Regions from separate parts of the Homo sapiens genome. Here all the other regions are reported to be linked to region 2. The links are microRNA targets in miRTarBase. Many come from high-throughput screens and were not tested one by one. Region 2 holds a microRNA gene; each other region holds the end of a gene's coding sequence.

Region 1 (4,070 bases), not on the chromosome of region 2:
GGGCTGAGATGGGAGGATCGCCTGAGCCACGGAGGTCGATGCTGCAGTGAGCCATGATCACACCACTGCACTCCAGCCTGGGTGACAGAGTGAGACCCTGTCTCAAAAAAAAAAACAAAAAAAAAAAGAAAACATAAAAAGTTAATGGTGGTGAGATTATAGGTGACTTGTATTTTCTTCTCCTTTATTTGACTTTTTGTAGATTTTCTACAGGACTTTGAAATTTACAAAGTGTTCTTAAATATTTAACCCCATTTTGATACTGTCAACAACCAACCTTGAGCTCCTTGAGTCCAAGTGTCAGCTCAAAACTGGACTTCCGGTGACTGGGAGTCACTCCTCCATGCCAGGTGTCTCGTGCTACCTTTTTGCTGAACCATCCCATCCCTTTTGAAGCAGAACATTTAAAATTTTATATATATCCCTGTGCTCTGGCTAATAATAGGCAGTTATTTATAGTGTCAATTTTGATCTTACAGGTGGATTTGACATGGAAGTGAAAGGTTGGGGTGGAGAAGATGTTCATCTTTATCGAAAATACTTACATGGTGACCTCATTGTGATTCGGACTCCGGTTCCTGGTCTTTTCCACCTCTGGCATGAAAAGCGCTGTGCTGATGAGCTGACCCCCGAGCAGTACCGCATGTGCATCCAGTCTAAAGCCATGAATGAGGCCTCTCACTCCCACCTGGGAATGCTGGTCTTCAGGGAGGAAATAGAGACGCATCTTCATAAACAGGCATACAGGACAAACAGTGAAGCTGTTGGTTGAAATCATAATTAATGCGTTACTGTATGAACCACAAAACAGCACTATTTATTTAGCCTTACTTCTACTTCCAGATGCAGTGCCTCTTTTGGAGAAGACATGTTTATTTTTCATGTTCTTTCTGACATTACTTTAGCAATTCAACTTGATGTGAGAAGAAAAAACAAATGTTTCAACACAAAATCTCTGTTTTGTGAGAATACTGCACTATGGAATAATTGACAAATTGAAATCTCATATTTGTCCCAAAAGTTGTTTTGAGTTAGTTCTACCTGGTGCCCATGTTCTGATTGTGTGTGGGATTGCATGGTGTCCTGATTGCATCTAGGTGGAGCGGATGGAATGTGCTGGGCCACTGTTGGGTGGAGAGCAGCACATTCTTACAGAGGAGATGGAGCGTTATGAGCATAGTATGTGGATAGGTATCTTCACCTGCCCGCCCCTGAGTCAGCCTCCTTGACTTGATAGCTTGAAGAATCCTTTTCCACTGAAATAGAGGATAATTAATTGACACATCTGAAATCCCCAATCAATCAATCAAGAGAAAGGTAGAACTAAAAACTCCTTAACTTACTGTTGCTTACACCCCTGAAAGTCTGTTTTTAAGCAAATGGGTAATAGTAGAAAATAGGTTAGAATCTATGGCTTGATTAAAAATATGTTATTACATTATCATGTTCAGGATTAGGATTAGTAGTCAGTTGCTGTAAACTATTTTGAACAAACAGAAAAGAACACGGAAACATTTTTAACAGAGCATTTAATTATGTTGGAATACAGGATCCTAGCTCTGTCTGGGAACATTAGTTTATTTGAGCCAGCTCTATCAGGGTCTTCCCATGGTGGTTCAGAATAGATGAGCATAGCATGGTTTTGTTTGTTTTTGCTTTCAATTTTCTAATTTGGCATGGATCCATATGTATTTACTATCCTTTTTCTAATATATTAATATATGCTACATTTGTATTTGCATTACTATAATACTTTGAGTTGAAAAAGAGTTTCATTGTGGAGAGAAAAAGCAAATGGTATGCCACAAGATCACTCTGATTTGAGAAAAGGGAGGAGGGGAAGATAGTCTGAATGGAAATCTGAAATACGGAATGTTTTAGAGAAATATGTCACTTGCATATAGAATGTTTTAATTGAGGTATAAATTAATGAGACAAAGTGAAAAAGAAATTATATTCAGATAGGACTGCACTACATTATTTGTCACACATGGATCTGTTACCATCAGGTCAATTCCTAGTATGCATAAATTTTTTAACCCTTTTAAAAGAGACCTATGTTGAAAACCCCTGAAAATTCACTGAAGAAAAATCATTACTCTTTTTCTCAGTAAATCATATCATCTGAAATATTACAAATTTCAAATTTCTAGGTGCTATATTAATTCAATATTACAATAACTCTTACCTAATTATTCTTACAAGTTTTAAGTTGTGGTAGTTTAGTGATTTTTTTAAAAGATGTGTGAAATGTTCTCTGCAAAATAATTCAGGCCACTGTCTCCTTTTATATATTATTATAATTATTTATTATGAAGACCAGTGAATTACGATATTTAAAGTGAGAGAACTTAATTATTTGCAAAGGTAAGTTACAGCTTGTTTTTTGAGAGAATCAAATGAGTTTACTTTTGTTCCTGTTGTTTTTAACTAGCTTTAAGTTTAAAGATGGAAGCTAAGCAATGGAAATGCTATACGTTTTTGACATTTATTAAATGGTACCAATAAAGTATTTTATTACCAAAAGTTAAATGAAAATGTGATAAATTTATTTCTATTGTAAAGTATCATAAAGACAGAACATTACGTATAACATGTAATTGTGTACTTTAAAAATGAAACACGAGTGCCGCAGCTGTTCACGTTAAAATATGGGGCATTACCAGGGGACAGGCCCCTTGTGCCCCTTCTTGATCACCTGTGCTCACCCTCTCCATAACAGTCACACTCTGATTTTTATGATCGTTTTTACTTGTTTTTCTTCTTAGTTTTCCCAGTTACGTATCTCCCAATAGACTGTTTTGCCTGGTTTTGAATTTATATACATTATTATTTCATTATATATTCTCTTTCATTCAGTGTTTTTGAGGTTCACTCATATTATTCTCAAAATTAGTTCATTTTTATTATTGAGTAGTATTTCATTGTACTGTAGGGAGGGGAAAAACTCCCTCCCATCTTCTCAGGGTCCCAGCTGGCCTTGAAGATTAAATTGGCATAGGATAGATTAACAAGAGAAAAGCATATAAATTGATGTAATACAAATTTTATGTGGTGCAGGAGCCCTCATAAAGAAATAAAACCAAAAGAAGTAGAGTCAGTTACTTACATACTGAATTGGACAAAGACTAGTAAACTGTGAAAATGTGACTGTATTTTGCGGGAGCCTTAAAAAATAGTTATTCTAACAAGGTCTGTACAATATTCTCCTGGTCTCAAACTTCTCGTCATTGAAGATAAAGATGTTTGTTGCCTTTTCTTCCAGTATAGAGAGTGTCTTTCACACTGGAATCCATCTCCTGCTCTTAAGAAACAGCACAAAGGTCAATCACCTTTTTGCACCTGCTGTTTTTCATGTGTCTTTAATTTAAATAGTATGCCGGAATGGCATATTTTAACCCCTTCAGTATGAATGTACTACTATACTTCTTCTACTGTTACTAGATACTTGGGTTGTTTCCAAGTTGTTTTTATATTCTCTTGTTGGTAACTATTTGGGTTGTGTAGATTTTTGTGGTTTGCTTTTGCTGTTGCATGCGTGTTGTCGTGAACATCTCCTGTAAGTGTGCCAGAATTTCTCCAGGAGTAAAAATGCTGAGCCATCGGTTGTGCACATGTTTAACTTTCCAAAGTGGACCACCTTCCACCACTGGGTGAGTTCATTTTGCATCCTTGACAGTACTTAATTTTGTCAGGCTTATTAATTCTTGCCAATTTAGTGGGCTTTAGGCATGAACTGTAGTTATGATTTATCTCCAGTCTTTTTGTTCATTTTTACCAGTTCACAGGGATTCTTCACATATTCCGGATACCAGTTCTTGTTGGTTTAATGTTTGCAGATATCTTCTCCCATCAAGACCAATGTGGTTTGTCTTTTCCCATTTTTGGTGGTACTTTTTGATAAATAAAAAACTAACTTTATTGTGACTATCTTTTTTCTTTATGATTTCTACTTTTTTCAATAGAATTTATTTTTTAGAGCAATTTTAGGTTCACAGAAAAATTGAACAGAAGGTACGTGGAGTTTCCTTAGATCCCCCTGCCCACACACATGCACAGTTTTTTCTGTT
Region 2 (4,070 bases):
AAGGCCAGCCCGGCACTCAGGTAAGAGGCTTCCTGAGTGGTAGGACCCCTGCCGCCCTCCCTGTCCTAGGAGGCTCCTGAACCCAGGCACCTCTCTGAAGGGTGGCCAATCCTGAGGAAGAAAGGGACCTGGACAGCCATGGGGTGGCCGGGACGAGCCCCTTCCTCTCTGTGCCTTGGTTTCCACTGTGGGATAAGGGGGCCTTAGCATCAGCGCTCAGAGCTGTGGAGCCAGGATTCCTGATCGGGCGCTGTCTCTGCCAGGCCAGGGCACTTGGACACCACGCTGCAGGAGGCTGGTCTCGCCCAGGCCTCTGTGGGAAGGGCCGCCAGGCTGAGTGGAGGGCCAGCCACCAGCTACGGTGTCTTCCTTCGCAGGTCTGTCCCCCCAGGCAGAAGGATTCCAGCCCAGGGATCCCCCATCCCACCCTGACTGCATCCTGAGAAGGGGGGACGCCACTTCGGGAAGGTTGTTGGGGCAGCACAGGCCCTGGGGCCCTGCTCTGTGACCTTGGGCGGCCCCCTCTGTCTCTCTAGGCCTGTATGCACCACTGGCAAAGGGGGCAGGGCCCAAGTCTACTCTAAAAGCTCCCCTTTCTCTCCAGAAGCTTTGGAGTCTCCCAAAATGCCTGCTGGGTCTCTGCAGGACTGGCACCTGTCACCGGAACCTGTCTGGGAGGGACGAGAACACGCTTTGCAAGAGGAAGCTCTGCCTCACAGAGCCCTGGGCTCACTCAGGGACCCTGGCCAGCAGCTGCTTCCTCTCCCCACAGCGGAGAGAGACCCAAGGGTCCCAGGGCGGATGCTTCCCACCAGGCCAGCCCAGCGTGCAGGGTGGCCTCGTAAGTCCTGATTGACATATGGACAGTGGTTCAGAGAGGTTACGCTACTTGCTCAAGGTCACCCAGCTCCCAGGCCCCTGCTGTCTTCCAGGCCACTGAGGTCCTAAGCGTCCTTCCAGGCGAGCCACTGCTCACAGCCTGTTCCTCATGTTCTGCGGCAGGTTTGTGTATCTACATCTTTTCCAGTTCCCTGTCGTCCCCCTTCCTACACCTCGTCATCCACTATCCCTGTTTGTTTTCTCTGTTCCTTTCTAGTTCTCTACCTGCTCCTCTTATTTTTATTTGAGACAGGGTCTTTCTTTGTCACTGAGGCTGGAGTGCAGTGGCACAATCCCAGCTCACTGGAGCCTCGACCTCCCAGGCTCAAGTGATCCCCCGCCTCAGCCTCTTGAGTAGCTGGGACCACAGGCATGCATCACCACACCAGGCTAATTTTTTATTTTTTGTAGAGATGGGGTCTCACTGTGTTGCCCAGGCTGGTCTTGCACTCCTGGGCTCAAGAGATCCTCCCACCTTGGTCTCCCAAAGTGCTGGGATGCCAGGTGTGCACCGCCATCCTCGGCCTTACTCTTCTCTTCCTCTCTCAGCCCCTCTGCCTCACTATCCCTCTTTCTGTGCCCTCCCCCACACAGCCCCCCACACTTCTTCTTAGTCTCATCTTCAGCTTCCCATACGAGGCCATCCTCATGAAATCAGGCACTGGGAGGTCCCTGGGGACTGACAAGTGCCAGCTGTCCCTTGCTGTCTCTCTGCCCCATGGCTGCAGCAGGGAGGGTGGGCAAAGGGCAGAGGTGACAGTGGCCAAACCTGAAACTGAGGCCCAGCTCTGGTTGGGAAAGAAACAAGGAAACAAAATAACTTGGGGACAGAGGGCGTGGGGTCATCAGAGCGGGCAAAGGCTGCCCAGGAGTTGTAAATCCGAGCCGCTCCCGGCTTTATGAGGCCGATTTGGGGTTGAGCCTGGACTTTGCCCAGGAAGGAGTGCTGGCAGCACACGGGGCGCCAGGTGTGGGCCCCGGATGATAAGAAGCCTCGGTGAAAAGACCATGGACCTGGGGCCACGAAGACTGGGGAGCCCAGGTGAGTGGGCATGGGACACTCTCCAGAGCCCTGCCGAAGGCGGACGCCAGGCAGGGCCCCGGTCTCCAATTGGTTCCCGCCCCCTGTAACAGCAACTCCATGTGGAAGTGCCCACTGGTTCCAGTGGGGCTGCTGTTATCTGGGGCGAGGGCCAGTACCCACGAAGAAGGAGAGGCAGGTGCTGGCCAGCAGACCAGCCAGGACTACCGTGGCGACGCTCCCAGGCCAGATGGTGGCGGGTAGTGGAGGGCTGTCGGTGGGCTGCCGAGACCGAGTGCACAGGGCTCTGACCTATGAATTGACAGCCAGTGCTCTCGTCTCCCCTCTGGCTGCCAATTCCATAGGTCACAGGTATGTTCGCCTCAATGCCAGCCACCAGGACCTGCAGGGATAGGGGAGGGCCGGGGGTGTCCAGCAGTCAGCAGAGATCCTGCGACCCCAGTGCAGCACTCATGGTCCCACCTCCCTCTGTCTCATTCCCCGTGAATGAGCCTGAACAGCTTCAGTCCTGCCCCTGCCCTGCCTGCCCTGTGGCACCTCTATGCTTTGCCCATGCTGTTCCCTTGGGCTGCAATACTCTTCCTAGCTTATTTGCCAGGCTCACTCTTACTAACCCTTTCAAGCTCTGTCCAAGCATTTGCTGCCTCCAGAAGGCCTTATTGAAGCTTCTAAGTCCCCACCTGGGCACCCCCACACAGTGCTGCCGCAGAGCACTGCCCTCTCGGAGCCCCGGTGCTGGTTTCTGCTTATGTCTCGCTCCTCTCCCCATCTGTGAGCTCAGTTCCCAGCCCAGGCGCGTGCCCAATAAATGTTTGCTGAACCAATCCTGAGCCTCTGTCTTGCACCCTGAGGAAGCACCCACCGACATGCAGTGTGGCCAAGGGGGGCTGAGTGCTCTAGGCCCAGTGTTTGTGCTGGAGCCCCCCCACCCAGGATGGGGCCCTGAGCCAGCCTCCCCATCTGCTTCCTACTCTCCCCTCCTTTGCCAGTCTCATCTCCCTGGAGCACAGCCCTGTGGTTGGTGGAGCAGCTTCTCCAGCCCCTAGGATTCCTAAGAGGGCCCAGGACCCCAGCTGCTGGTAGAGGAAGAGCAGCCAACCCAGGACAGGACAGCTGACCCCACCCCTGTCCCGCCTCCCACAACAGCCTCATTTCCACCTATTTCTTTGTGGTGTTTGTTTGTTTGTTTTGAGACAGAGTCTTGCTCTGTTGCCCAGGCTGGAATGCAACAGGCTTCCTCCCAGGAGGAAGCCTCCCCTCCTGGCATGATCTCAGCTCACTGCAACCTCTGCCTCCTGGGTTCAAGCGATTCTCCTGCCTCAGCCTCCCAAATAGCTGAGATTACAGGCATGCACCACCATGCCCAGCTAATTTTTGTGTTTTTAGTAGAGACTGGGTTTCACCATGTTGGCCAGGCTGGTCTCGAACTCCTGACCTCAGATAATCTGCCCACCTCGGCCTCCCAGAGTGCCGGGATTATAGGTGTGAGCCACCGCGCCCAGCCCCACCTGTTTCTTATACAACGGGGTTCTGAGGAAATTTTCCTTTTTTTTTTTTTTTTTTTTTGAGACAGGGTCTTGCTCGCTTTGTCACCCAGGCTGGAGCGCAGTGGTACAATCACAGCTTGCTGCAGCCTCCACCTGCCAGGGCTCACACAGTCCTCCCATCTCAGCCTCCCAAATAGCTGTGACTACAGGCACGTGCCACCATGCCTGGTTAATTTTTGTATTTTTCGTAGAGATGGGGTTTCACCATGTTGCCCAGGCTGGTCTCAAATTCCTGGCCTCAAGCAGTCCTGCCTCAGCCCCCCAAACTGCTGGGATTACAGGCATGAGCCACTGTGCCCTGTCAGAATTTTTCATTTGAATAAAAAGGTTTCTGGTACTACAAAATAAAATTTGTAAAATGGGAAATAGAGACCTAGGAATAAATGTCAAATTGCTTAATAACAGGCGTTGGCTATTGAGCCCTTTCTGTCTGCTGGGCACGCACATCCAGGACCTGGTCCTCCTGGCATCCATCATGAACCTGTTTGGGACAGGAGGACACAGGCTCAGAGAGGGTGCACATTTGCTGAAGTCACAGAGCAAGTTGGACCTTCTCCTGGGGACTGTAGGCAGCCAACAAACATCTGGCCCCTAAGACACTG
Region 3 (4,070 bases), not on the chromosome of region 2:
GTAGCCCTGACTGGGAAGTGCACTCGTGAGTGTGATGAGTATGGCCACTCAGACTCCTGCTGGATGCCGGTCCGCACTTCTCCGGAGAGGAAGAAGAGCCAGCCTAAACTGTCCACTTTCATGCCTGTTGATGAACGAGGAAGCCAGGAAAAGCTGGCCAATGGGGAGGCCGCCATCATGGGTGACCGCAACAGAAACCTCCTGAACAAAAAGTTGACCTCATCCTATGAGACCTTCAGTGCAGCTAGTTTCAGCAAAAATGAGGAAGCCAACCCTGAGGATATTCCCCTTACAAAAACAGGGGAATATAAGCCATCTCCTGTCAATACTCTCACTAGAAGAGAAGTTTACCTGTAGGCTATAAAGGAGCAACAGCAAAGTTCTTTACATGTATGAAAAGGAGAATAAGGGGCAAAAACCTTACAAAGCAAAACGTTTAATCACAAAGAGGGGGCTACCAAAGAGACAAAGCTTTGCCTGCCACTTCTGCCTCCAGATCAGGCCTTTAGTGATACTGTTAGCCTGATTCTACTGTACAATGTAGAAACCATCCTTGTTACTTGCATGTCTAACCCCTTCACTGATTCCCAACACTCACTTTCTCTTCCCCACCCCTCTCCAAAAAAAAAAAAACAAAAAGAAAAGAAAAAAAAAGGGGGATAGTTGCAAGTTTCTTTCACAGTAACTGTACGAAGCCTGATTAGCAGAACACAACACACCCTCATTATCCCTAAGCTGAAGCATGATTTTAGTCACTTTGATTTTGTTCGAGTGTCATCTGGCTGGTCAAAAATAAGCAGGACAGATAAAATGTATTTCAGACATACCATCAGAAAATGGTTTATCACCATCAAAGGCAATCCTTTGAAAGTGATAGAGTCCCTCTAAAGGTACAGTCCTTAGAAAGAGGGACTGTATTAAAAAGTATTTTGGGAATATCAAAGCTTTAATATTCCAACAAAGACTAAGAGAAAAACAATACTCAGTGGGTGATTGCAGTCCTAAATTGTCATATGTTGTTATTTTCAGGTCAAGAGCATCAACTTCAATTCCATACATTCACCAAATATTCTCAGTATACACACAGTCTTGATTACATGTATCAATTTCACCAGTTATGACTTCTAAAAATTATATATATTTTTTCAGAACAAGACCACTATTATTAACTAACTTGAACAATTGTATCATCCAAAGGCCAAAGATCATATGGCAGATCAGGGAAGTCATGAAGTTGATTTGGTCTTGACGTGGAAAACCATTAAACAACAAAAGCAACTGAACCCATGTATGCACAGAAACAATCAAACACTAGTTCATTTTATAGTGCCCAGGAAAATGTTCCTTCTTTTAAAATGGATTTTATTTGAAAGCGCAGAAAATGAAAACTAGTGAGATATATTTTTGGTATTATAATAGGCAATTGGTTGAGGTTCAAGTTTAGTTTCAGGTAATATTATCAGGGAAGATTCCATGTTTTAAAATAGTATTTATGGATCATGGGTAGGTTAAGAAAGATGCATTGGCATATAGTCTTGATAGTTAAGTCCACGATTATCATTTTAGAATCCAGGCTATGCTTGCTGCTCTTTTTATCCACATTTTAAATTACAATTGCATTTTTTACTTGTTCAGTGCACACTTTGATGCACCACAAGTGCATTAATTTTGAATCGTGTGCAATATAGAAATATTTTGAGACTCACAACATTGAAACAAGGTGACACCCTAGTTGACTTTATCACTAATGTGATTTGAACATTATTTAAACAAATCTAGACTGAACATGAAAGAAAGGAGTTTTGGGCAGTGACATTTTTCACAGAATGTATATCTCAAAGGTGAAAGCAGAGTTTTTCCAGTGCAATAAAAAGAAACAGAATATGCAGATTTTGAGCTACTCACTCTATAGAGGATAACCTAACACGGCTGAAAATTGAGCTGGGACATTCAGACGAAAGTGACAATCCATGGACAGAATAGGGAATAACAGGTGTGAAGAGAACAAACTTATCACTGAATGTTTGCAAGCTGGTTAAGGCATAGCCTTGATGGCTCTCTAGCAAACTGTAGAAACAATGTAGCTTTGGGTAGTTTCATGCTTTGCAGAATTTCTTAGACTATAAAGTGACACAGCCTGGAATATAGGTTGATAATTCACTATAGGTCTTCAAAATACTTATCTTTGAAAACCGCTTCTCTGTTTGGTGGGGTACAATTTGGGGGTCATTTCCTTATGCTCTTTCTTAAATGGAGTTTTCATTTTGATGTTAGTTTATGTATAATAGGTAGGATGCAAAAAGATATGTAATTGAAACAAAAAACATTGGACTAAAATATCAGTAATTGAACATGTTTATGTTTGATTATTATTTACACTATGGAAAGATGCAATTCTAGTACTTTGTTAGGAAACTGCATTAAAGCAGTTCTGCCTTGTATAATCTGTAAGTACCTATTAAGACAAAATACTTCTAAAGATACTTATGAAATGTATACACATTTTTTCTTGCACGTTACAAAGAAAATACTCAATTGCATAACACGGATGTTTGACAAACTTTTTTTTTTTTAATGCATTTCTTTCTTTCATGAGACATTGAAACCACTGATAGCTCATTTCACCCTATCTTAAACCCTTCTCTTGTCTATAAAACTAATACGGGTCACACCGGACCTTCGGATTAATTGGATCCACATTCCCCAATGATGTTTGCACCCCATTCAAGATAGCCATGCCATTGTCATTTAACTCGTGAACCTCTCTTTAAAACTAAAATGGATGTGAAAGAATAAAATTCAGTGTACTGTAAGTATTCACAGTAATTCTAGTAGAATTAGCTGTCATAACATGTTTATTATATAATGAGCTGGCATGACACAGAAATATATTTTGTGTTTGTATGACTTTTATTTTAAATAGGTTAAATCTGGTGCCACTCCATATATAGAGTGCTTTTGAAAAAAAATCAATAAAAAGAAACAAAAAAAATAAATGAGTGAATGCAAAATAAGCAACTGTGCCTTTTATACCTGTTGTTACGGTAAAAAAACGGTTGTTGGGTTTGGACAATGAGGGGAAATGGGCTATTCCCAACTTTTTTGATCCTGTATATTTGTCCATGTTTATTTTCTGAACATAATAAATAATATATTAAAAATTTGCCTTCTGACAAACTCAGATAATGGACCAGTCTTAAATATTGTTATGTCATAAAGCAAAGTTAAGGCATTAATATGGGCTGCTTAAATCTGACTAGAAGATGAAAGCGTTTATTGTAAGTGTAACACAGAGATACTATCAGGAGTGAAATCAGTCCATTTGGCAAGGTAAAATACTGATTTAGAGTTTTATTCTTTATTTCTTTTTTGTTGTGTTTCTTTCAGCTATGGTTTCATTTTGGTTGTACAGTATATAAACCATATTTGTTTTCTGTACACAAGACTCTCAAGTGAATTTTGCATGCATTATACATTAGGACACATTTATAAATTAATGAGTAACTATATAAATTTATGTGTATTAAAACGTCTGTAGCTTCAATCTAAAATCTACTGCTCTTTCTGAATCTCCAGATATCATTTCTGTATGGTTTCTGACTGGCCTGCTGCCTGAGTTTCAGAAAACAAGGGAGGCATTATTTTTATGGGAGGAGGAACTAAGATGGTACTGAGGATGTCTGACTGAAACACTACCCTAGGAAGCTGTCTTGTAGGAAAATAGAATAAAACACACAGACCAGAAGAAATTGTCAAGAAGCAAACAGCCATCCAAAAACAGTCATGAGAAATCTAAAGACCTAAATAATCTTAGGTATATGCTCTCAGTGAGAAATAAGAAAATGTGTCCTTAAGCAAAAATAAATAAATAAATAAATAAATAAATAAATAATAAAAAGTGAGCATGATCATGAATATAGTAAATCTTGTGAGTTGTGACCTAGGTGAAGGTGTAATGATAACATCTGGAGGAAGCATCATTTGTTCAGCTACCTAGGGTTTACTTTCAGACTTTTCCTACAGTTTAAAGCACTTGCGTTCAGTGTGGTACGATCTGTTTGTAATGTTAA
Region 4 (4,065 bases), not on the chromosome of region 2:
TCATGAGATATTCTCTCGATTTTTTTCCAACAATTTAAAACTGTAAAAACTATCCTTAGCCTGCAGGCTATACAAAAACAGCTGTTTGCCAATCCTTGCACTAGCTTTGTGAGGGAGGCACAGCTCGCACCCAGCACAGGACCTAGCAAAATCGAAGATGCTCAGTAAATGTTTATTGAATGAATTCAGTGGACAGATGACCAGAAAAACCCCATGATGCCTCAGAAATACACTCCAAAGGAACTTTTACAATGTAGTTTTCACATAGTTATTTCATTTATATTTGTTTTGTAACATTTGTACTGCTTTTCGCTTATTTACTTTTGAGACAAGGTCTCTGTCTCCCAGGCTGGAGTGCAGTGGTGCGATCTCAGCTCACTGCAACCTCTGCTTCCCAGGTTGAAGTGATTCTCCTGCCTCAGCCTCCTGAGTAGCTGGGATTACAGGCATGAGCCACCATGCCTGGCCGGGAATTCATCTTATTTTATAAAACTGCCAAAGTTATCAAAAATAAACTAAAACCAGGCCGGGCACGGTGGCTCACACCTGTAATCCCAGCACTTTGGGAGGCTGAGGCAGGCGGATCGCTTGAGCTCAGGAGTCGGAGATGAGCCTGGCCAACATGGTGAAACCCTGTCTCAACTAAAAATACAAAAAGCAGCCGGGCATGGTGGCGCACGCCTGTAGTCCCAGCTACTCCGGAGGCTGAGGCAGGAGAATCGCTTGAATCTGGGAGGCAGAGGTTGCAGTGGCCAAGATCGCGCCACTGCACTCCAGTCTGGGCAACAGAGTGAGACTCTGTCTCAAAGGAAAAAAAAAAAAGATGGATTCCCAAAATGGAGCCCTACTTTTATAAGAATGCATTTACAAGGGTTCGACCTACAATGGTTTAACTTGTGATTATTCTTCGGGAACCTGTCAGGCCCAGGGTCAGGGGAGACCTTGAACATACAGACAAGCCTGGGACGGTATATAACAAAATGCTGAGCTCAACAATGCGAAAATTTTCTTTTGAGTTTCTTCTTGCCTGAAACTGTGTATGTCATTAATGCTGAATTAATTCACAACTTGCCTACGCTTATTTCCTCCTCTGTGAAATGGGGAAGATAAATATTTGTCTAAATTACAGGCTTGTCAAAGTATCAAATGTAACATGCAAACACTCTGGAAACAAAAAAGTGATACCAGAACACAGTGTTACAACTACACCTCTTTATGATCCCTAGCTGCATTCTTGTTATTAATTTTCCCCTGCCTTCCCACTCCTTCAAAACTAGAAGCTCCTTGAGGGCAGAAACTGTGGCTTACTCATCTATCAACTTCACAGCACAGTTCCTTGTCCCTGATGTAGGTAGGAGATACTTATTTACTGCAGTGAAACAATTAAACAATATTTGTAAGTAGCAAACAAGTGATGACATTCAACAAACTTGGTAAGGAGGAATGAATGGAACTTTTAATTACAACATGTTTTTGGATATGTGTAATGTTAGTCTTTTCTTTATTCCTGAATCTCCACAGCCAAATTCTACTAAGAAACAATGTAGTGAGAAGTTTTATAAGAAATGACAGACTGCATCTTTGGTTCCTGGGTCATAAAAAAAAAAAAAGTGACAGACACAGATAAAGTTCACTATAAATTTTAATCTATGATATAAAATATTACCTAAAGATAAAATTGAACATCATGTATCAGAAAATAAAACATAACAATGAAATGCAATTTCGTAAATACTTCTATGGCACAAGGATTATTTTCCTCAGATTCAACCTTGTAATTGTGTTGTTTGCTTTCTGAAAATCACACTTTATAAAGAACACAAGTAGAGCTTGTTAAAAATGATTGTCACAGATGTACTGTTTACTAATTCAAAGAACACTATATTCATTCATATCAATTTTATTCATTAATTATGAACAATAAAATATAATATTCCATGCTTTTCATGAAATAGTGGTTTCTTCTTCCAGTCTAATCAGGGAACTAATAAATGCTTAGTTCATGGGAAAACTTCCATTTGATTTACATTGACTTAATTACTTCTTAGGGTCTAGCCTCATCCATGGAGAAAAAGCACTTTTTCTTGAGGCAACAGCAAATTAACAGCACTGATACAAAATATGGCAAATTCAATGGTTGTAGCATTGCTTTAGGAATTTTGAGACTATAAATAAAACTATAACCATAAATAAAAGGGCTTATTAATATCTTCTTTTCAGGAGAGTGATACATTCTGAAGTTTTCTTGTTATTCTGTTGAATAGCAAGGACTTCCAAACTTAAATGTCTTAAGGCTGAAAATTAGTTATATTCCTCAAATTTTAGCCTTATTAATGAAATTCCAAAAGTATTATAAAATAAGATTCAATTTGTCTTGAAATTATAAATTTGTAACAGATATTTTTCAAAATACATGCCTTCAAACAACTTAAATGCAAAAATCATTCATTCTTAATAATACCTAGCAGTTCATGCCTTGCTTCGCAAAAGTACTCATACAAACATGTGAATTTAAAAAACATGTTTTCCTGTTCAAAAAATAAAGCTTCTGCCCTTTTAAAAACTTGTCAGGCTTTCATGTGCCAAAATGTTGAAAACTGCACATATTCAAACATAGTTCCCATAGGAACACATATTCCTCAGCTCTCACACCTTTGAAGACACAGGAGATGGGCAATATAAATGTTCCCTTCTTTCCAGCTGATGTTAAATAGTTAGGTTTGCTTCATGAGATTATCGGAATAAAGGGTTAAATTTTCAATTTCCATTATTCTATCTGTAAAATTAGACTTAAAAGTAGGTAGAATACTACCAGAAGAATTACACAGTGATTGGTAAACTGGCCTAAAATAATCAGGCTTTTTATTTATAATTGCCTTTTTAAAGTTGTCATTTGACAATAGCTTCAATCTTTAACAGCAGGCAAAAGAAAATGAGGTGCCATGCTATATTAATTAAAATATTCCACAAGAAAAGAAAATACAAAACCTGAAAATAACTTCAGTGCTATAGACATTTAAAAAGTTACAATTATTAAAACTCTGAATAAAAAGATCTTGAGAACAGGTACGTTTCAAAACAATCTTTTACACACTTTGGAAAAAAATAGGTATTTTTCAAATAACTTGATATATGGTTTATGTATTTCATAGTCTCTGAGTTTTTTTTCTGCAACACTGTTTTGCATTAAAGTCTCATATTGTTTACCAGTAATTGCTTCCTTATGCTGAAATAAAACTTTGTTTGTTCATTAGTTTTCTGTATATCCCATTTGGTTTTGAAAGCAGCTCTTCATGTTTTCCATATTCAGTAATTTTTCCTTGGTCAAGAACAGCAACCATATTAGCATTCTTAATGGTGGACAGACGATGGGCAATAACTAACACCGTTCTTCCATCCATCAGTCGATCTAGAGCTTCTTGAACAAGGTACTCATTTTCGGCATCCAGCGCACTGACACAGGAGCACACACACAAGAAAGCAAAGACGTCAGTGACACCCATGTGCTTCCTGATACACACAGCAGCCCTTCCTGAGCAATGAATTTTTACCATGATCAAAATTTCAACTGTTTAGGACTTTCTGATCTCCATAAAACTATACTGTGATGTAAGGAGAAAAGCATTCTGCACAGTTACAGCTTACAGAGTGATTAGGATTGATGGCAACCATGTCTGAAGTGGACCTAGAACTCTCAACTAGGACTCAGTCTGCCCACTGGTTTTCAACTGTCATTATTAATTCAGCTTCCCTCACTTTAGAGTAAAGGGGGGAAAAAGGATTTTCAGTTGTATCACTTTGAGGTACAGAATTAAAAGTGTTTTGGTGAAGGAAGAATTTGGTTTAATACACACAATGGCATATATTATTAAGATATCCTCACCTGGTTGCTTCATCTAGGAGAAGAATTTTGGGATTCTGAAGAAGGAAAAAAAAGGAAAAGATAAAATAATTTTATTGGAAAAATACAAACTCTCAGCAATAAAAAAGGAATAAAATTCTGACACATGCTACAATGTGGATGAGCCTTGGAAACTTATGCTAAGTGAAAGAAGCCAGACACAA
Region 5 (4,070 bases), not on the chromosome of region 2:
GAAGGAAAGAAAAGTCGGGGAGAGAGTTGGGGAAGGCCAACTAATTTGAAATGAATCAACATGTACTTACATATCACTAGAGACTGAGGCAAAATCAAAACCGACAGATTTATTCCATTGAATGAAGTGTATGCATATCAAATCAGCCATTTAATTGTATGCTCCAACCACTGGGGCAGGTGAAATTTTGGCAGCTTCAACTTGTCTAAAACAAAACCAATCCACCAAAAAAAAAAAAAAAGGTTAATTATTCAAAACAGAAGAGACCTGCTCCTTGTCCTGAGCCCATTTAGACCTTGACTTTTCATACTTTTAATTGGCTTAGTAGGTTTGGCCTGTGTGAATGAAGTCTTTTATCTCCCTCTTCCCTCTTTTTCTTTCCATGCCCCTTTCATCTTTCCTATTACAAACACACAGAGAAAGCTCAAGGGAAAATACTTTGGTTTTTAAAGACTTTTCTTTTTAAAAGGTTGTGGATTTGGGTGGGGGGGAGGGGTGTGTGTGTGATGCTGGTGAATACTTTTTTTTCTCTCTCTTTTATCTCTTTTTCTAGAGAGGAGTTGCTTAAACCAATGGGACTAAAACCTGATGGGACAATAACGCCTTTGGAGGAAGCACTCAACCAGTACTCTGTCATCGAAGAGACCAGCTCTGACACAGACTAAAAGCATCACCTGCTCAACTCTCAATATTGCTTTATCAGCATCTTTTCTCTGTAGCTCCAGGGGAATCTTTTCTCTAAAACATTTATGCCCTTGCTTTGGCTAGAAACACATTAACTGGTTTACTCATTGAGAATCCAGCATATTTAAGAGGTGACCCTGTGTTTTTTGTGATATTGAGGCATTCATACAGAGCTGCAGTTAGACGGGGTTACGGGGGCTAAAAGCAGAAAAAAAATTCCATTTCATCGGGATGGAACTGAAGGATTTTATTCTATAAAGCGGCCCTGGTTGAATCTGGCAATTCTTTTTGCCAAGATCCCTAGCAGAAGATTTAGCCATGTCCTTCCCCTCACTTGTGTGAGTGGCCCCTTCTGAATCTCTCCAGCAGCCAGAGGCACGTGAGAAGCAGAAAGAGCTGGTAAATAAAGCCTTGGGCAAGCGACTTCTTAGATCAGAACTCACCAAATGGAAGCCTAGCAGCTGCTCCATAAACCTAGCCCCATTCTTCATATCAATTTTGTATAAATATATAGAAACACACACACAGCCTCAGACTTACAAACTGATTATACTCTAAAAGTTTGTATGTCAGTTAGCTAAAACTTCAGAATACATTTCTCCCTATAAAGAGTTATAAATGATGGTTTAGTTCTCAGGCAGCTACAAATGCCTATTTATTCCCTAATGTACCTGAACACTAGTACCATAGAACTGAACCACCATCTGTATCAGCGCATGGGGAGTGTGCATTCTGAGGTCTAACCCGGGGTGCCAGGAACACACACATCCTCCATCCCAGCATAGAGAATGGGGACTCCCTGAGTAATGGGAGTTCTTTCATGGCCTCTGCTTGGGGTGGGGGAGTCAGCAGCACCCATTTGTACATATAGGTCATTCATACATCACATTTTAAATTGGGGACTGTGTGTGCTGGTGTGTGTGTGAGTTCTACGTTTCTACCATATGTGATCAGTTTAATAGTAACTTTATTTATTTAAAAAAAAGAAACACAATTAGTTACTGTTAAACTGATAAAGGGTGTTTATTTTTACTTTTAGAATTGGTCCTATGAAGAAGTAGAAAGTGAGTCATGCACTAGACAGTGGGCCTAGCTCATCAGTGGCTAAAGTTGAAAAGGGGTTGGTTTCCTGTATATATATGTATGTATATACACACGTACATACATTCATATATATACATATATACATAATGTGCTTAACCACTGCCTTTTAAAACTTTAAATTAAATAAAACATTGGGGTTGATTCAATTTGGCCATCTGTGTGTGTTTCTTTATAGATACATGGGCTAAACAATACTATTTCACAGTTTATGCTTTTTTAAAGTGCTTTTACATCCATGGTCCCACTTCTAATAGCCTTTTTAAGGACAGGTAGAGTACATGGAGGGTTACTGAAAAGGTCATTTATCCAGAAGTTACCTCTCTGGCAAAGCAAAAAAATCAGGAATTACGTCTTAAAGGCCTTTCAGCTGCCAGAGGAGATGTCACAAAGTTTCTTGCAACTTACTTATGGGAGAGATCTTCAAGAATATCACTCTTAGACTCTGAACTGAAATTTGCATACGCTTCCAACATGTTTTATTAGCTGGCTTTGAAGCTCACAAAAGAATGGCAAAGAAAGAGGCTGCTAGATTGAAGGCAGGCATACTGAAAGAAGAAAAAGGCCAACTGAAAACTAGATAGTGAGATGAGAAGAATAAAACTTCAAGACATAGCAAATCTGGGACTGTCTACTTACCAAAGGATACTCTAGTTGACCCAGAAAATGTGTGTACAACAGTATGGCCCGTAGACTACTTCCTATAATGGTGACCCTGAGTTTTTTTAAAAGAAGAAATTAAATCCAGAACGCTTTATAAAAGGGTAGGAAGAAGACAATAGATGTTAGAATTTCATCCAAAATGTTTGAGGGAGAGGTGAGTGACCCAGGTTTTAACCAACAGCAAAAGAAATGGGCAATTCATAATTTTAGATTAAGTGAAAAGTTTAGAAAAAATTTAAGTATTTTTGTTATTCTACAAATGCATTTTTAAAGTATTTTTATAATTTCTATAATCAAATAGCTTTGGCATGCATGTCAGCTTACCTAAATGAAGATGTGTTTAATGAAATGCCATCTTACCAGCTTTCTTTATGCAGAGTAAGTGTTTGAACAGTCCTGTTTCAGTAGCTGTGCTCTTCTGCTTTCAGTGAGTTCTGTTTCATTTTGCATTTCTCTGCACTGGGCACTAAGCTTTGTTTTTGAAAAGAGAGTTTGCGGGGAAGAAGATGAGAGTGTCTTCATCTGGCACACAGAAAGAGAACTAATATCTGTTAAGTGCTTACTACATGCTGGGCTTTTGATGTATGTTATCTCATGTAACCTCACCTTATCGCATATGAAAGATCCTCTCCAGAAAGCTTATGAAAGTTACCCCACGTCACAGCAAGGAAGAGTCCAACTCTGGTGGCCTGACTCCCAGCACCACTCCTTCCTTTTCCCCACAGCACACCTGGGCCCACACTGTGCCTCCTTAGGGCTCTGAAATGCTGGGAACAGAGTGGTGTGAGGAGGGTGGTCATTCTCAGGCCATTTTAAGCAATAACTATTTCAACAGAACTAGTTTAAAGAGGTTTTTAAGCAGGGAAGTGACCTGAAGTGGAAGTATGAGTGGGAAACTTGCATGGTCAGCACTGGATTTCCAATGAAGACCTGGAATCCGTTAGGATAGGCCAGGGACCAAGGCTGCAGGCTGGCCTCTCTGCCCACAACTCTCCTGACCTTGGAAGCAGGGTACGGAGGCGTGTGTCCTAAAATAAAGCATTTGAGCTGCTGCTACAGAGGAACAATCACCAGATATTGTGACCCTTTCAGATGCCCAGTAGTCCTGGGAGGCAGGCAGGGCAGGTGTTATTATCCCTTCTTTATAAATGAGGACACAGAATGAGGCAGTACAAGTGACTCTAAACACCCCCTTAGTGCCACATCAGTCTCGCCACCTCCCAGGACTAGGTGTCACCTGTATTGACCTCTTCCCCTCTGATTATAAAAGTAATATATGTTCATTGTGGAAAGTTTGGAAAATGCAGAAAATAAAATTAATAATTTACCCCAAATCCCACCATCCTGAGATCATCACTGTTAATGTTTTAGTGTATTTCCTTCCTGTATTTTTTCTATGCATATATAATTTATTTTACTACAAGATTGGGATCATGCTGTATTTACAGATTTGTATCCTGCTTTCTTTAACATATTGTGAGCATTTTCCCATGTCAATAAATATTCTTCAAAAAGTAATGGCTATATGATATTCCATTATGTGAATTGTGGCAGACACTGCTAGTTTCCTTCCCAATATTCTTTCTAACAGAAGACATCATGACCACCACGCCCATAAAAAA
Region 6 (4,070 bases), not on the chromosome of region 2:
GTATGTGAAGCTGTGTATGTGTATGTGTGTGTATATGTTTGTGTATGTATATGCACATATATGTAGAAAAAATATCTGGAAGTGGGATTGGGGAATGAGAAAACAATTTTACTTTTTATCTTCATGAGAGATAATATGGTGTAATGCTTAAAAGCACAGACGATAGAGTCAAAGTTCCACTTAACTACCATTTACAAGTTAGGAGATTTGGGGTAAATTTCAAGCCTCCTGGTACCCTACTTTGCATATCTGTTAAATGAGGGTAATAATAGTACCCATTTCATGAGTTTGTTATGATTGTTAAATAATGTATTTGAAGCGTATAGAATAGTCCCTGGCATATAACTAAGCATTCAGTAAATGTTAGCAGCTATTATCATTATTATTCTCTTCTGTACTGTTTGGATTTTATACTATGAGTATGTTTTATTTTCACAAGAAGTAAAAAATATGTCTATAATCTATCAAACTGAAGACATTTTCAACTTGATTTTTAGTTCTCAATTTTCCCTTGGTGCTTTCTTTCAAAGGAAAAGACCAACAGCAGAGATATGCCTTTCTCATTCTTGGCTACAGCAGTGGGACTTTGAAAACTTGTTTCACCCTGAAGAAACTTCCAGTTCCTCTCAAACTCAGGATCATTCTGTAAGGTCCTCTGAAGACAAGACTTCTAAATCCTCCTGTAATGGAACCTGTGGTGATAGAGAAGACAAAGAGAATATCCCAGAGGATAGCAGCATGGTTTCCAAAAGATTTCGTTTCGATGACTCATTACCCAATCCCCATGAACTTGTTTCAGATTTGCTCTGTTAGCACTTTTTTCTTTGACTCATTTGGACTGAATTTGAAATTTTATATCCACTCCAGTGAGATTATGATTTGTAGCTTCATATATGACATGTTTATATTGTAAATGCACTTTTCCATGGAATAATTTAGGGAAGTGTTTTAATGTTAAATTACTAGTTGCTAGCATGTTATGATTTCATATCCTGAGATAGCTCTGCAGATAAGAAAATATTTAAATATATGACAAAAAGTAAAATTGTACATGTGAGTTTACATGTTAATGAAATAATTCAACTTCAAATGAACTTACCAGAATGTTTTGCATATCAACAAAAAAAGTGGCTTGAGTTTTATTATAGTTGGTGTAAACTGAACACAGTGAAGACATTGGAATTTAATAGGTTCTCTCTCTAAGGTGACTCTTATACCATGCCTCTATCAACATAATTTGTTTAGGAAAGCAGTATGAAGTTTAAGCCAAAATAATTTCTACTTTATAGATGCTCAAGAGACATTTTACAATTGAAAATGTCTTTCAATTACAAATATTTTGAAACTTCGTAAGATTTTCATTCTCTGTGGTCTGTTATATGAGAGAGATCCTTTAACTAGAGCAAAGAGGGAGTTAGAAACCTGATCAGGGATATTCTTTACAAGTTGGAGCAGAGGAAAGAGTAGCATGCCTTCGTATTTTAACGCAAATGTCTTTTTCCTCCTCCCAACCTACTTGAGATCTGATAAGGTCTGGAAGATGGAGATATTTGGTATGCAAGTGTAGAGTTTTTTAATCCTCCAGAATTTCTAGAGTAGAAGATACTTAGGTATAGTTAAATATTCTGTATTTTTAGTCAAACATATTTATTAATTGAATATAGAAGAAAATGTTGACACACTCAGACAGCTTACTGAATTTTAGATGTCTTCTGCATCTTAGAATACAAGCCAGTCATTCAGAGTTCTAAAAGTATGCATAAAAAATTACAGCACCGGTAGGTCTATTAACACAGTGCCCGAGTCAGCGGTAGCAAGACTGATGTGATCATAAAACATGACATCAGGCTCGTCTGAAGTTCTTGTGTGAAATTCCTAGTGAGTGAGGAGGCTCAGCTTAAAGCCATCTGCAGAGTGGCCCCTCATTGTGGTCTTTTGCTGGGACCAATGCAAGAGACTAGGGAGAGCAAAATGTTTGCTTATGGCTAGAGACTATATCCAGCCCTAATGATGGGGAAAGTTAGTCCTTTTCGGGTAATCTTTTATGAATTTTCACCTGATGACCGTTATATTGGTCTGTTATCATGTTACGATAACTGTGATCTCATGACCATGTTGCTGTATCAGAAGAAATAGTTTGACAAATGGTAACAACAACCTGATGTTCCCCCTTTAGACCTTTAACTTCTCAAAATTTTGGTAAGTTTCCAAATTCTTTAATAATAACTTAAAACTTTTTGAATAACTATCAGGTCACTTTATTTGACCACATGGTGAATTCCTTTAATGTCTTCAGCATTTGTTAAGGAAAAGTTTTCTCTACTTGTGTGTGTATGTGTGCACATGTGTGTATGTACAGGTGTATGTATATATCTATAGATAGATACAATACATTCTTTAGACACTTTTCAAGATTCTTTGCTGTGGTATATTGTGCTCAACTCAGGTGCCAAAGGAGCTTTTTTTTTTTTTTTTTTTTTTTGAGATGGAGTTTTGCTCTGTCTCTCAGGCTGGAGTGCAGTGGCATGATCTCAGCTCACGGCAACCTCTGCCTCCCGGGTTCAAGCAATTCTCCTGTCTCAGCCTCCTGAGTAGTTGGGATTACAGGCGCATGCCACCGTGCCCAGCTAATTTTTGTATTTTTAGTAGAGACGGGGTTTCACCATGTTGGCCAGGCTGGTCACAAACTCCTGACTTCAAGTGATCCACCCGCCTCGGCCTCCCAAAGTGCTGGGATTACAGGCGTGAGCCACTGCGCCCCCGCCCAGGAGCTCTTTTCTTATGACATATAAATTATGACATTTATATTCTTTATATGACTTTATGTTCTCTTCTTATGACATTTAAATTCTTTAAGTAGTTTGTTGGTCCAATAAACTAGACGTTGTATAATCTAAATTGAGCCCTTGTATATCTAAAACTGATGAGTTGTTTCTAAATTGTTGATTGTCCATTTACTTGCCTTTGGTATTAAGATAATGCAAGTAAAGTTTAGTAAGTCATTGGATAATGAAATGATTATGTTTCTGAAGACCATATTATATTTTTAATTTTTAGAGGAATCATGCCATCCCCCAAAAAATCAAGAAATATTTGAATTTTAAATTATAAGTTCATTTGTTAAAAGACATTTTTACAAATGTCTGAAAATCTTAAAATACTTTACATCTACCTTTAAGTAGTAGAATACAGAGCTGTAAATTTCCATGCCTTTTTTCCTGATATTAAGTTTTATAGTAAAAAAGCAACTAGTGATTGCACAAAGAATATAAAAATCCACTCTTTTTACAAAGGTGTGAATTTAAATAACGTTATTGATTGGAATATGAAAATAGACCAATCATTTAAGAGCTTTTTAGCAAATGATTCAATTCTTACTCTTTTTCTCCCAAGATTGAAAAGCATAATGTATTTCTCTAAAGTAGGAATCTAGAGAGCCCCTGTGAGTGGACAAATGTCAGTAACACTTGAACACATGAGAAGATAAGTGTTATGTTGTGATAATTTAAAGTTAAATTTGCTTTTTGGGTAGGATCCCTAAATAGATGGGATTTTTAAATAGATGATATATAGATGACAATTGCAATTGTCATTTTAATTATTTTCCCTACAGTAAAGAACCTAGCTCTGAGCAGTGAAATTGTAATGGCACTTTAAAGGAAGTAAGCCGTTAACTGTTCTCTAGTGGAGCGATCTCCAACTGTTTTGGCACTAGGGACGGGTTTTGTGGAAGAAAATTTTTCCACAGGACTGGGGGTTTAGGGGGATGGTTTCAGGATGATTCAAGTACATTACATTTATCATTAGATTCTCATAAGGAGCATGCAACCTAGATCTCTTGCACGTGTGGTTCACAGCAGGATTCGAGCTCCTTTGAGAATCTAATGCCATGGCTGATCTAACAGGAAACTGAGCTCAGGCAGTAATGCTTGGCACCGCCCCCCACCTTCTATGCAGCCCGGTCGTGGCCTGGGGACTGGGGACCCCTGCTCTAGTCAGTAATAAGGTACTTGTGCCAGAATATAAATCAACACATTGCTTCCTTTATCAAAGAAGTCTTGTTATTTAAA
Region 7 (4,070 bases), not on the chromosome of region 2:
TCCACACTTTTGCCAAATAAGTGTTCAGGAAAAACTCAACCTAAGTATTTGAAACATAATCATATTTCTTCCAGAGATAATGCAGTATCTCACTTAGCTGCACATTCAAATTCATCCTCAAAATGTCCCAAGCTGCCTAAAGCAAATATACCTGTAAGACCTAAACCTTCTTTCCAGTCCTCTGCAAAAATGACAAAAACCAGTTCCAAAACCATAGCCACGGGTCTAGGAACACAGTCTCAACCATCCGATGGAGCCCCACAAGCAAAGCCAGTCCCAGCACAGAAACTTAAATCGGCCTTGAATTTAAATCAGCCAGTTTCTGTGTCCTCAGTTTCTCCTGTAAAAGCCACACAGAAATCAAAAGATAAGAATATAGTTTCAGCTACCAAAAAGCAGCCTCAGAATAAAAGTGCATTTCAGAAGACAGGACCCAGCTCCTTGAAGTCTCCTGGCCGTACCCCACTGTCCATCGTGAGCCTACCCCAGTCTTCTACCAAAACACAAACTGCACCGAAGTCAGCACAGACTGTCGCTAAGAGCCAGCATTCAACTAAAGGGCCTCCCAGAAGTGGCAAAACCCCAGCTTCAATCAGGAAACCACCCTCATCTGTTAAGGATGCAGATAGTGGAGATAAAAAACCTACTGCAAAGAAAAAGGAAGATGATGACCATTATTTTGTCATGACTGGAAGTAAGAAACCTAGAAAATAAATACATACTCATTATAAAAAAAGAGAAAAGGAAGAATGAATGTGTTAGCTTCACATCTTAAAAGTTTCTCCTATTTGTGTCTGTCTAAATAGGTGCAGACACTAAGGATAGTGAGGATGGAGGCTGGGATGAGGAAAGGGTTCATCAGAATTCACATATCTGAATTCACTGGAAAGAGCCCTTCTGAAGCAAACAGTTGTAAAATCACTGCAAGGTTTTTATTAATAATAGACATGTATATGATTTTCAGTCTATAGCATCTTTGTTAACATCTGCCTTTTGCAGGAAATGTAAAAGTTATTTAACACTACAAGAATTTTAACAATAGTTGCTCTATTTTTGAATATGTATTAAATATGGAGTTCATATACCTGCTAATATCAACGGTGGTGCTCTTACTATTAGTTAATTGCATTTTGGTTAAAAAAAAAAAAGCAACAGTTTGGCACTTGTCCTACAAAAGGCACCTAATTTAATTTTCTGATCAGGATTGCCTGATCCAACAGTGCTAAGTCATGGCTGCTGCTGACTAGCTTGGCATTATTCTGTGTTAGGTAGAATTCTTATTATTTATTTTTTTAAGCTTTCCAAATTGGAAGGAACTGATTGTTTCATGTGGCTTATATTTACATTGGTAATATTTTGTCACCAATATTTTTGGTTAAAAAAAATCCAACAAATTAACTTACTGAAATATAAACAAATTTTGTAAACAATTTTTTATATTATCTATAAAAACGTAGACACCTTATGTTTCACATGTTGTGCAATGTGACAGGGGAAGCTGATTTAGTAGCTTTTAGCATATTAAAAATAATTTTTTATAATGTAATTTCCTGTGAGTGCAGACCTGACATTTTACATTAAAATAATGTGAAACATCAGAATTATGTTTTAACAACTTTAAAATTAAGATGATGTTAAAATAATTTTAGAGTTATGCTATGTAAAAATTCTATCATGAAATTATTTTTCTCTAGATAGCACAATACCAATTTTAATTAATTTCTTCCAATTAGGTTACTTTTCTTTAATAAAGTTATGCTGCCTTCAGTTTTCCAATGGCAAGTAGACAGGATATGTTCAAGGTTTTCTGCACTGTAGGCACAGTCTCTCAAGCATATCCTGATCATGTAATGACTGCATAAACTCCATCAACCTAAGGTGATACTTGTAAATAATTTATTTTTAAGGGATGGTGACTTTAAAAATTATTAATGAACTTTGAGAAGTTTTAAGAGTGCTTTTAAAACTTCACAGTATTGCCAATTATCTTAGGTTATTCAGTATTCAGGTTTGTGTTTCTCTGTTTTAAACTAAAATGTGTTTTCTGAAGAAAAAAATAATAGTTTACACAAATGTACAATCATAGAATAAGCATTTTAAGCTGGCGACTAGTGTTCTATAGATTACAAAGCAAGAAAACTTTCTATGAAGATAAATGACCTTTTGCCTGAAGAGTACAGATAAAATCAAAGATGTGTGCAAGCTAGTTTTTGGAAGAAGTGATGCTTCTCTTCTTTAAAGAGACAGTCACCAAATACTTGGTTTAACTCGACTATTGACTTGGGCATTGAGAGAGATGATATATACATCTTTGGAAAGTGAAGTCAATGTTCAAGAGGTGATAGAAGCTTTACTTTTTAGTGATCAGAAATATTTAGTGCATCTTTTCAGACAGGAAGAATTTTATCATCAAGTATTCCCTTATAAAACCAAGTAACACTTCTTTATCAGTAACTTTTAGAACTTAAAAGAAAGCAAAAAGTAAATGGAATTGTAGGCAATTTATGAATCCTAGTAGATTTTACAATATGTAATTTATGTTGTTTACAGTATATAAACACTAAGTTTTGTGTTAAATGTGATCAGGAATAAAAGTATCCCACAGGCATCTGACACAAATTCCAGAATTAGCCAAAGAATTGTTTATTTGAGGCCAGGCAATCCCAGCATTTTGGGAAGCCAAGTTGGGCAGATCACGAAGTCAGGAGTTCGAAATCAGCCTGACCAACATGGTGAAACCTCTTCTCTACTAAAAATACAAAATTAGCCGGGCATGGTGGCACATGCCTATAATCTCAGCTACTCAGGAGGCTGAGGCAGGAGGATCGCTTGAACCCGGGAGGCAGAGGTTGCAGTGAGCCAAGATTGCGCCACTGCACTCCAGCCTGGGCAACAGAGTGAGACTCTGTCTCAAAAAAAAAAAAAAAGAAAAAGAAAAGAAAAAGGTTTATTTGAATAATTGGAAGTCAGTTTATACATTACTATTTTTCAGCAGTAGGGAATTTCTCCAATTACATTCATGTTGAATGAATTTTTATTTATATATAGCTTACCCTTCCAAAATAAAAGTGTTTTTTTAATGTTGTTTTGTTTTGTTTTGTTTTTTTCCTTTTTTGAGACGGAGTTTCACTCTTGTTGCCCAGACTGGAGTGCAGTGGCACAATCTCAGCTCATTGCAACCTCTGCCTCCTGGGTTCAAGTGATTCTGCTGCCTCAGCCTCCTGAGTGGTTGGGATTACAGGCATCCACCACCAGGCCCAGCTAATTTTTTTGTATTTTCAGTAGAGATGGGGGTTTCACCATGTCGGCCAGGCTGATCTCAAACTCCTGACCTCAGGTGATCCACCTGCCTCAGCCTCCCAAAGCGCTGGGATTACAGGCATGAGCCATCACACCCAGCGAAAAGTTTTGTTTGAATAAACAATATCCGAAAGACAATTAGTTTCTTCAGATGTATTTTGAAATTCTCCTAAAGAGCTAGTGTTTCTATTCATTTTCACAATTTAAAAACAGCTCTTAACATTGCTGAAGTTGGGAGAACTTTCCATCTCTTCTTAATAACAGTGCAAGATTTTGTAAATTCTTTTTTGTGTTTAATGTTTAATAAAACGAGTATTAAGCTTAAATTACTGAAGTACCTGGGAGAAGTAATGATGTGTACTTTCAAAAAAATGGAAAATGCTTTTATTTTATTTTCTATAATTTGTTAACATGATATGTAAAATTAAACTTCGGAGCACAATGAAATGCCGATTATTTTTACCTTGTTTGGGCTTAAAGTAGGTATTTAAGGTTTATGTGTTCAAAATGCCTTGGTAAATTGGATGACCTCTAACTTTACTGTCCATATGGAGTTTGTCATTCTTTATGGATAAGAGAACTTAAGGAAAAGTTACTGTTTTTCTTCAGTCTTTTTATATCTATCTGATTTAAAATCTGTTACTTTATTAAAAGGCTTCAACAACAGGTTGTTAGGATGTAGTCTTACATCCAGGTTCACATAATAACCCCATTTGAATCCAAATTTGTGTATATTTTCTTATGCCAGCAGTATTTGTATCCAATTTTAA

Evidence for each region. The annotated mature microRNA hsa-miR-192-5p reads CUGACCUAUGAAUUGACAGCC and lies in region 2 at 2,208-2,228, shown strand. An mRNA with a match to its seed (bases 2 to 7 or 8) in the 3' UTR can be bound and repressed. Matches are read on the target gene's strand: a 7mer-m8 pairs with bases 2 to 8, a 7mer-A1 pairs with bases 2 to 7 and ends in A, and an 8mer does both.
Region 1: miRTarBase lists CSGALNACT2 as a target of hsa-miR-192-5p. Seed matches in the 3' UTR shown: 7mer-A1 at 2,008-2,014.
Region 3: the mRNA of PCDH7 is a reported target of hsa-miR-192-5p. Seed matches in the 3' UTR shown: 7mer-A1 at 1,028-1,034.
Region 4: miRTarBase lists ABCB10 as a target of hsa-miR-192-5p. The part of its 3' UTR that is shown has no 7-base or 8-base seed match.
Region 5: the mRNA of RIC8B is a reported target of hsa-miR-192-5p. Seed matches in the 3' UTR shown: 7mer-m8 at 1,553-1,559.
Region 6: miRTarBase lists STK17B as a target of hsa-miR-192-5p. The part of its 3' UTR that is shown has no 7-base or 8-base seed match.
Region 7: the mRNA of GAS2L3 is a reported target of hsa-miR-192-5p. The part of its 3' UTR that is shown has no 7-base or 8-base seed match.

Annotation. Positions count from the first base shown.
Region 1 is chr10:43,182,771-43,186,840 of GRCh38, forward strand. It overlaps CSGALNACT2 (chondroitin sulfate N-acetylgalactosaminyltransferase 2), which reads left to right. Exons shown (of 8, transcript NM_018590.5): 8 at 480-2,532. The coding sequence ends at 772. Among named protein-coding and RNA genes, the nearest start is that of CSGALNACT2, 46 kb to the left of the region's middle.
Region 2 is chr11:64,889,361-64,893,430 of GRCh38, reverse strand. MIR192 (microRNA 192) reads left to right here and starts at 2,185; the gene lies at 2,185-2,294. MIR194-2HG (MIR194-2 host gene) reads left to right here. Exons shown (of 3, transcript NR_133640.1): 1 at 1-20; 2 at 605-841. MIR194-2 (microRNA 194-2) reads left to right here and starts at 1,992; the gene lies at 1,992-2,076.
Region 3 is chr4:31,142,493-31,146,562 of GRCh38, forward strand. PCDH7 (protocadherin 7) reads left to right here. Exons shown (of 3, transcript NM_001173523.2): 3 at 1-4,070. The coding sequence ends at 357. Among named protein-coding and RNA genes, the nearest start is that of LINC02497, 27 kb to the right of the region's middle.
Region 4 is chr1:229,514,958-229,519,022 of GRCh38, forward strand. ABCB10 (ATP binding cassette subfamily B member 10) reads right to left here. Exons shown (of 13, transcript NM_012089.3): 12 at 3,884-3,918; 13 at 1,625-3,453. The coding sequence ends at 3,222. Among named protein-coding and RNA genes, the nearest start is that of NUP133-DT, 8.6 kb to the left of the region's middle.
Region 5 is chr12:106,885,351-106,889,420 of GRCh38, forward strand. It overlaps RIC8B (RIC8 guanine nucleotide exchange factor B), which reads left to right. Exons shown (of 10, transcript NM_001330145.2): 10 at 554-3,966. The coding sequence ends at 665. Among named protein-coding and RNA genes, the nearest start is that of TMEM263-DT, 68 kb to the right of the region's middle.
Region 6 is chr2:196,134,190-196,138,259 of GRCh38, reverse strand. It overlaps STK17B (serine/threonine kinase 17b), which reads left to right. Exons shown (of 8, transcript NM_004226.4): 8 at 531-4,070. The coding sequence ends at 813. Among named protein-coding and RNA genes, the nearest start is that of STK17B, 35 kb to the left of the region's middle.
Region 7 is chr12:100,624,177-100,628,246 of GRCh38, forward strand. GAS2L3 (growth arrest specific 2 like 3) reads left to right here. Exons shown (of 10, transcript NM_174942.3): 10 at 1-4,070. The coding sequence ends at 714. Among named protein-coding and RNA genes, the nearest start is that of GAS2L3, 53 kb to the left of the region's middle.